Linked DNA regions of Homo sapiens: region 2 is linked to region 1. The links come from fine-mapping of genetic effects on gene expression. A gene starts in region 1. The other region holds a variant in brackets. All regions are shown on one strand. Distances are between the middles of the regions. Region 1 holds the start of GPR156 (G protein-coupled receptor 156). Region 2 overlaps LOC107986121 (a long non-coding RNA gene).

Evidence for each region. PIP is the estimated chance that this variant, and not a neighbour inherited with it, causes the effect.
Region 2: its variant is the best candidate, but not a certain one, in a credible set for the expression of GPR156 in gastroesophageal junction (GTEx, PIP 0.52).

Annotation. Positions count from the first base shown.
Region 1 is chr3:120,282,630-120,287,020 of GRCh38, forward strand. GPR156 (G protein-coupled receptor 156) reads right to left here and starts at 2,593. Exons shown (of 10, transcript NM_153002.3): 1 at 2,400-2,593. LOC124909418 (a long non-coding RNA gene) reads left to right here and starts at 2,527. Exons shown (of 2, transcript XR_007096029.1): 1 at 2,527-4,391.
Region 2 is chr3:120,508,939-120,513,329 of GRCh38, forward strand. It overlaps LOC107986121 (a long non-coding RNA gene), which reads left to right. Exons shown (of 3, transcript XR_001740868.2): 3 at 2,060-2,414. It also overlaps the pseudogene RPL34P9. Among named protein-coding and RNA genes, the nearest start is that of FSTL1, 60 kb to the left of the region's middle. The variant C/T (reference allele first, on the strand shown) is at 2,425.

The DNA of each region.
Region 1 (4,391 bases):
CATCATTCTGGAGAGTATGAAAAGAAACTGGAATGAGCTGAGAAAAGAAGCAGTGGCAGTGTCTGAAGGAAGAGTGTTCAGGCAGAGGGAAGAGCAAGGACGATGGTAAGCAAGAGGACGGCCATAGAATATGAGGGCACCAGACCAAATCACAAGCCCTGGTGGAGAGTTGAATGTTATTCACAGTGTGAGGGGAAGCCATTGGAGGGTGTTAAGCAGGAGAGTAATATCATCCAACTGACTGACATTTTAAGAATGGGAAAAAGAAGGCAGTTAAGGGGTCTGCTCAAGATTCTTATGGGAAAGTCAGAAGAATAAGATCCATATTTTTTTCTTAAAATGTTAATATCCTTCACACATCTATATTTGAAACACCTTCTGATTCAAGCTCTGTCCAGGACCAGATCACATATGTCTGGATTCTAAACACTGATTTTTATTAACAAGTTTGTTTTAAGATAATAAGTTTATAAAATGAGAGGTAGAAAACATCTCTGTATGTCTAAAATTTTTCATAATAAAGTACTGGAGAAAAAAAGGTGAGATAGTGATTTGCATCCTTTATCAGGCAAAATTCATCAGCAACTAAACATGAATGTTCTGATTCTCAAGACCTTTGCAAAATAAAGGCTCTGATTTTTTTTTTTCAACTAAATGTAGAACATTTCTTTCAACCCCCAAATCCACCTTTGCAGCCCAAGTCAGTCCACGTTGCACTGTTTCTGCAGCATGTCAGAGCCTCTGGCTTCTTTCCTCTCTCCCCCTTCCCCCAATTAATCTCTGAAACCTACATAAGAATGGAATAAAATGCAAATTCAAGGAGAAGGATGCAGTTTTCAGAGAAGGCCTCATCCTCCTCCTACCCTATAATGGAAATTCCCTTATGGTTAAACAACAAAAATGGAAATATTAAAACCCTCAGCTGAAAACAAACACTTAAGCACCTATTCTCCTTTCCAGAGAATCTGTTTCCCTCAATCATTATTTTTCCACTCTTTTGAGAGCCTTCTAGGCTGAAAGTTGTTTCATCTCACCCATCTTGGGTCTCTCCTAGGTCTCATTTCTGCCTTCACCAGGCTTGAAGTTCTATATCCCTAGGCTATCAGAACTTTGACTCTGACCAGGCTCAATTCTAGACTTTACTGGGGAATGGGGAGAAGCTAAAAGCTGGGGGTGGAAGAGAAGGGGAAACAGAGGGAACATTCCAGAGACAGTAGTGTCCCTGAAGGGGAATTAGGCTGGCAAAATGGGGACCAGAAAGCCACCTCTATTCCTCACAAGGGACACCTAACTCAAGCACAGCCTGCTAAAGCACTTTATTCTCCAGACTCAAATTGCCTTAACCTGTAAGCAAACGCTTCCCCAGCCATTTATCCGCAAGCGCATTTGCCCCACCTGCAGCAATGAAAGAAGCACTGTTTTTGCAAGCCGGGCTGCTACCCAGACTGCGAGGAGACATTCTGTGCAGAATTCAGCCACTGGTGGAGAAAAAGAAGTTTTTCTTTGCAGGCCTTGCTGCCTAATACAACTATATCAACAATTTCTCCCGCTGTGTAAGCCCCATCTGAAAATCTTTCCCTTTTATCTAGGATGCAAAAATGTAATGTTATCCTCCATATTCTGGTTTAAAGAACTACACCAGGAAAGACATTTTATGATAGGCTAGGGCATCATTTACCTCTAATTCAAGCATGCATGTACCTAGAAAACTAACAAAGGGGTAAGTTATGCCATGCCATGACTTCTCTTCCCAGATTTCTATCCTGAAATCTTAACAAAATTCGATTTTAAAAACCTCAAGGTTTGTATTCTTCACGAGTACATGGATACCTTGAGTTCTACCTAGAGGCCTCTAGTTTCTGACAGAGCTAACTTGGAAAGGGCTGCTTGCCAGGGTACAAGGATGTTGCAGCTTCCAGGTGACTCCCTCATGCCCAGAAGCAAGGCAGTTCAACAGACGCAGTGCAATACAATTGTCCCTTTTCAGGACTTTGCAATCTCCATGGGGGAGCCCATCGTGCCCGCCACTCTACACCCTGGGGGTGAACATGCCCTGCAAAGCAGATTCGGCGTGAGGAGACTCTGGAAAGTCTACAGGCGGTGGGAAACTGTTTCGGGATCTCTCATTTTCAGCACAGCCGGTCGCTTATTCAGCAGAAAACCCACGGCCCCATCTTCACACCAAATTACAGTACTCTCCCGTCTCTTCCACTGAAATTGCCACTCGCATCCCTGATGCGTGACCCCTGCTCACCTCAAGTTCCTATGAGAGTTTCTTTACCGGTTCCAAACAAACTGCCCAGATTCTGGAAAGGGAGAGAAAGCCCCTCCCCCTTTCCACTTTCACTTAATAATTAAGTGTTTGAAGTTTTGTGGATCCTTAAGGTCGCTGTGCTCACCTCATCAGCGTCGGACCGCCGAGAAGCGCCAAGCCCGCTGCTATGTGCAGGACGCCCACGGTCCCCCGGCGTCTCGCGCGTTCGCGGGGCTGGAAGGGGCGGGAAGGGGCGGGCCGGGGCAGAGACAGGGGCCCGCGCCCATCGCCGCGCCGGGAGCCTGGCGTGGAGGCGGCGGGACGGCGGCGCAGGCCTCTGAGGTGTGCGCGGGGCGCCGGGCGCCTCTGGCCGGGGCACTGGCTGAGCCACGCCTGCCCGCCCCTCCCTGGCGCCGCCCGCGTGGCGCGCCTCGACCCTGCTCTCCCGCGAGGGCCGGGAGGGCTCCGGGACCTTGCAGACTCCACGCGCCTCACGGCTCCTCCAGCTCCTCGGATCTTTCTCCTTGCGTCGCCGCCGAGTCCCCTGGGGCGGCCCCGCCTCCGGCCGTCTCCTCAGAGACCTTCCCTGGGGGGCGCCTTCCCCTCAGCGCCCCTTCCCGGGCCTCGAGCCAGCGGCTGCCGCAGGAGCTGGCCCCGGGGCGAGGAGCTTCAGATTCAGGTCCCTAGCCGGCCTCGGTAAGGAGACTGGAAGGATTCTCCGCGAATGCTCATTTTTATTTCTGGAGTGGCGTCGGAGTTACCAATTAGTTTTCTTATTTTATACTCTCTGGAGTTGCCAAATTCTTTACGTTGAGCTTTTGCTTATTTTATAATCAGAAAGACAAGTACGTTTCTTTTTCCAAGAATGCTTACAGGAGGCCACAAACAAGATGTTCGCACCCAGCCCACTGTCTTCCGCTTAAAAATATGTGTGAGATGTTGTGTTTAAGACACCCTCAAGGAGAAACATAGAGGGGAGACCTGGAAATGGTCTTGGGAATCCACTTAGACTTTCCATATTATATTTGTTTCATTTATTTTAAAATCTCAGACCTATTTATGTGCATTAGGACATTCCACATTTTTACAACTGCGCAGAGGAAATCTTTGGTTGTAGAGGACGGGAAGAGAGAGGCCAGGTCCGCAGACCCCACTGTGACAAGACAGTGGCTACATTCTTAACTGTTTTACACATTGTGATACCCAAAGACTTCTTTTCACAGGATTCTACTGAGGGGGAAAACAAGAGGAAGAAAGAAAGATAGACAAGGTTTTCCTCAAGGCAGTAAGCAAAAAGCTGGTTTCTCAGAAGAAAGAATTATGTCTGAGATTTTACCCAGGACTCTCCAGATCTCTCATTCTACACAGAAGGACCCTTTCATTTGGAACGTGCAGAAACTGAGGAGGACCATCTCTCTCCTCCATGGGGGCTGCCTGAGTTAAAAAGGCCTGGGTCCATCTTTTTTCCGTAGGAGAGCTGACTTCAGAGTCTAGAGCCAAATCTTCACTTCTGTGGCTCTAGATTGAGGATTTGCCCTTCTGATCTCTGTGGGGCTTTTTTTTTTTAACCTGGGAATTCCCCTGGGCTCTTCGGCTGTTATTCTCATCAACCCCTCTCTATATTCTGCAAGACATTGAAATCTTTCTCCCAGCTTGGCCCCCACCTCCAATCCCAGTATTCTCTTTTCTGAGATTGGAGTATTTCCAACCCCTCAGTTGCCAGGCACTGAAGGTTTTCATCTTCCAGGCCTGCCATGTTTACCTCTGAGATGTTTCTGGCAACTGTCCACTTCTCTGCATTCTCACACTGCTGCTCTTGATAAGCTTCGATTATCTGGGGCTGAATTGTTTCAATAATTTCCTAACTGATTTTCTTGCCTCCTATCTGTCCCCACCACCAACATAGACTTAAGAATGTCACTCTCTTGACAAAACAAGCCAACATCCTCTATCCTCTGTCCCACTCCCAAACCTGCAGTAACTTTCCTGTGCAATTGTAATACAGTGTAAACTTTCATAAGGATGGGGAGTGGCCAAGATGGCTGACCAGAAGCAGGTAATGTACATGGCTCTCACGGAGAGGAACAGAAGGGACGAGTAGATACAACACCTTCAACTGAAACATCCGGGTACTCGC
Region 2 (4,391 bases), 230 kb after region 1:
TGCAATTTTAAAGGTTTTTAGACCTACTAAATAAATGCTTTATAGACTGCCACTTTGACTTTTAACTGTACAACTTGACTATTTTAAAGCTAGGCATGGCCTGGGGACTTACAGAGTTAGCCATTCCCCCAGGTATGCTGGAAAGAGACCTTATATGCACTTCTGTCTAGTGAATCGCTTACTTATCAGGTTTTTCGCAAAAGTAAAAGTTGTGAACAGTTAGCCATGTAACATGTTCTTGAGACTACTGGAAAAGCAGTCTTACATGTAAGGTACGCAAGGAAAGTAGAATGTGCTTTTGTTAAAAGATTGTAAGAAGGTATGGGAATGTAAGTTTTGCCTAGTTTGGAGGGTTAAAGGATTGTTTTATGTTAGATAGGATAAAGCTGAAGGTTTGAGCAAGTTGTGGAAGGTTTGTGAAAAATTAATCCTATAAAAGAAATTCTATGTGTGAAAATTACCCAAAATTAAAGGACTTTTATTCAGTTTATTCATAAACACTGGAATTAAAGCACAACATAGTTTTATTAAAGTATTAATCTGCTTTTGATTAAAGTGTTATCAGTACATGTTCCAAAATTATGTGAAACTCCTATAATTCTAATGTAACATAGTATACATTATTAGGAATAATTATAATTATGTTTAATTGTTTTGTGCCTCAGGGGTAATAAATTTCTTTGTCAATTGTGTCTTTGATTGTGGCTACCCTAAGACTTTTTGTCATTAACAGATAATTGTTGTCTTGTTTTAACCCTCTTTAAAAGGTGGTTTTATAATCAGCTATAGAACTCTAACAGGTGCTCCTAAATACAGGCTTCTGATAACTTTGAAGATTGAGACATTAGAATAGAGAAAAAACTTTCAGGACTCTTATTGGAGAGCTAAAATGTTCATGAATATCAAGCAGAACAAAAGTTAACTGCATGGACTAAACTAATAGAAGATTGAAATAATCCTTTTATGACTTTTTGCTTAAAATGTTGCTAATCCTTTGTTTTCCAAAACCAAGAAAACTTTTCTTTTGAGCTATTTACAGCTTTTAATAATTGAGTACTCCTGTAAACAAAATTCGAGCATATTTGTTTCTCTCTACCTGCTTTCTTCAAAATTTGGAAACTACTTGTGAGTATTCTTAACTTATGGCAGTATAGTTATTTGCATAAGTACAATAAGAATCTGTTGTCTTTTGCAACAGAACACAACTGGAGAAGCTGGTTATTTTACGAAGGCTTTGACTGGAATGATATGCATTCCTTTAAGGAATCAAATTTGACTTATATAGCCAATAAAAGCCCCTTGTGAAAACTGGCTTCATACCTTGTCTACACAGTCCCTGTACAGGGTTCCCAACCTGTGGTCTGTAAAGAATGCCACTTTCTAACAGGCTCAGGAGCCCCAGGTTATCTTGGGACCTCAAGGGAGAGGAATTTACCAACTCATTCAGGTATTTGATGGTATAAAACTGTGGCTGGGTTTAAGCCTTAAAAAAAGTCTTGTCTGAGATTCCTTATGGAATGAAGTTCCATCAAAGCCAATTTAAACAGGAGCCTATTAGGCAAATAATTATTCTTGCTGTGCTTTATGCAAATAATCAGGCCAAGTATAAGACAACTAAAGTTTATTTTGCAAACAAATCAGTTTTATCATGATTTTTTATAAAAATGAGGACTGGAAAGAGAAAAAGTGTGTTTCAAAAATTATGATACACCTGTTATTTTTCTATTAATAGATGCTAGTCTCATCAGTTATTTTTAAGTTTTTGCCTGCATTTTAGAGTAATCCTGCTTATTCCTGTGAACCAGCCAGTGATCTCTGGCTGCAGCTCAGAAGAAACAAAAGGGATGGGTAATGTAAAAATCTGGATCAGTATTCTAATTCTGAGCACATATTGGAATCTGCTATCAACCCCATGTACCCAAGTCTTAGTAGGCATGACTATAGCCACCAGTTACCTGGGTGTGTAGGCAGCCTCAGGGTTCTTTTTTGGGGCTGTCCTCACCCCATTATTTTGTTTTAACATTCCTCTAATTCTAATAACCTGATTTGTCTCCTCTAGCCTTTAGGCCATTGAGCTCCAGATGAACCTCAGTGAGGGATAGTGTCCTCTCAATATTCAAGAGTTACCCTTCTATGGGGGACCCCCTAGACTGCCCATCAGTGAGACACAACAGAGGCAAAATCCTGCCCCTCTCTCCCTTGGACCTGGCTGGATACCAGTTTCCCCAATCCATGGAAACAGCCTCCTGCTCTGACAACTAGCAAGAGGCCAAGACTCACAGAACCACCTACAACCCCCCAACCTCTGTCAGCAGGAAGCCATTACAGAAGGCTCACCTTCATCCATTTTCTCCAAATAACTGGGGTCTTGGACTCTTGAGGGGGGAAATGCTATAGTAGGTAGCTAGTAAGACATGAGCAGAG[C/T]GGGAGAGGGCTCCCCGCCAAACCCAACTAGGAAGCTCAGGCGACCATCAGATGAGGGTCAGGTGGTTGTTAACTGTATCTCTAAAATAATAATTGGTTGCAGCCAGTGCCAGGGAAAGGCAGTCTCCCTATAGATAGAAAAAACCTGAAACTGGTGATCAGTAGCTTCCCAATAAGATCTCAGGAGTTGGGTGAGTGAGCTCGAGCATGCCATGATGGAGTTTAACTGGTATATAACCTTCCTCTAGGAATGCTAGATTGGTAAGGGAAGAATGCCCCAAGTGAGCATGCGTACAATTCCAATAAACACATTGTGCATGTTCCTCTCCCAAGTGCTAGCAGGCCATTGCACATGTGGACAGCTCACCCCAAGAGAAGAATTAAGGGAGAAGGAACACAAAACCCCCAAAGTATGCCAGCATGTAAAAACCCCAATTCAAAGGTCAAACCATGCACCATGAAAAACAAGTGTGCACTTGTGTTGCAGATTGCCCACTTGGCCCTCTTCCAAGTGTGCTTTTTTCCTTTCATTTCTTTTGTAAAGCTTTTTTATTTTATTTTATTTTATTTTTGAGACAGAGTCTCACTCTGTCACCCAAGCTGGAGTGCAGTGGCATGATCTCAGCTCACCACAACCTCCGCCTGCTTGGTTCAAGCAATTCTCCTGTCTCTACCTCCCGAGTAGCTGGAATTACAGGCACGTGCCACCAAGCCCAGCTAATTTTTGTATTTTTAGTAGAGAAGGGTTTTCACGATGTTGGCCAAGCTGGTCTCGAACTCCTGACCTCAGGTGATCCACCTGCCTTGGCCTCCCAAAGTGCTGGGATTACAGGTGTGAGCCACCTCGCCTGGCCGTAAAGCTTTTAAATAAACTTTTACTCCTGCTCTAAGACTTGCCTCAGTCTCTCCTTCTGCCTTATGCCCCTCAGTTGAATTCTTTCTTCTCAGGAGGCAAGTATTGAGGTTGCTTCAGACCCATACAGATTCACTGCCAGTAACTCGGATACTTGCCACTGGTAACAAAAGGATTCATAGAAATTCATAGAAATGGTATCATAGAAATGATTCATAGAAATGAAAGAGGAAATGATAGATACCGGTCCCACCTTTGCACATATTCCAGCTGACATATTGCCTTCTCAATACCACACCTCTGAGAGGGCAAAAATTAATTACCTGAGTGGATTTTTTTTAATGCAGAATAAGATTGTATGTGCCTGAATTCTTATAAAACTCTATAAAGGGCTTCCATGCTTAAATAGCTATTTCCTCTAGTAGCTTTTGATTGATGGATAATTTTCTCACATTCTAACAGATGTCTCAGCCATTTCTGCCACCTGTAGCAGAAAATATTCTGCACATAACACTTTTACTAATATAATACAGTAATGAATCAATAGAAATATTACTGCACTCTGCTTTAAAGAAAAGACATCTCAAGAAAACAAGGTCAGCTCTTCCAGGGATGCTGTCTGGAAGCGCTCAGAATGTCAGTGTTTGACATATTGTCTTAGGCTTCCTACAACAGCCTCTAACAGAACTCTGCTGTACTGAACCCCTAGTAATAGAATTGTTTACCTTTACACCAAGAAGGATGGAAAAGCACCAAAATCTGCATGTGGTGTGTGCCCAGGCCGACTTTGAGGGATTTCTGCTGTGAGACCTAAAGTTCTTATGATTGGCCAGTATGAAAAAACATGTCAGCAGGGCCTAAGGTGTCCCATGTGTGCCAAATGTGCCTGTGACAAGTTGAAAGGTGCTTTCCTTATCAAGAAGGAGAAAATTGTTTCAAAGGTGTTGAAGGCACAAGAAAGTAAGAAAGCTAAATTTAAAAAATGAAGCTTTTTTGGTTATAAAAAAATCAAAAGGCAACAGCAGCAACAAGACAAGGTCAAAATGAGGTAACTGAGTGAAAAAACAAAAACAAAAACAAAACAAACGAACTGGGGGCCAAGCATGGTGGCTCA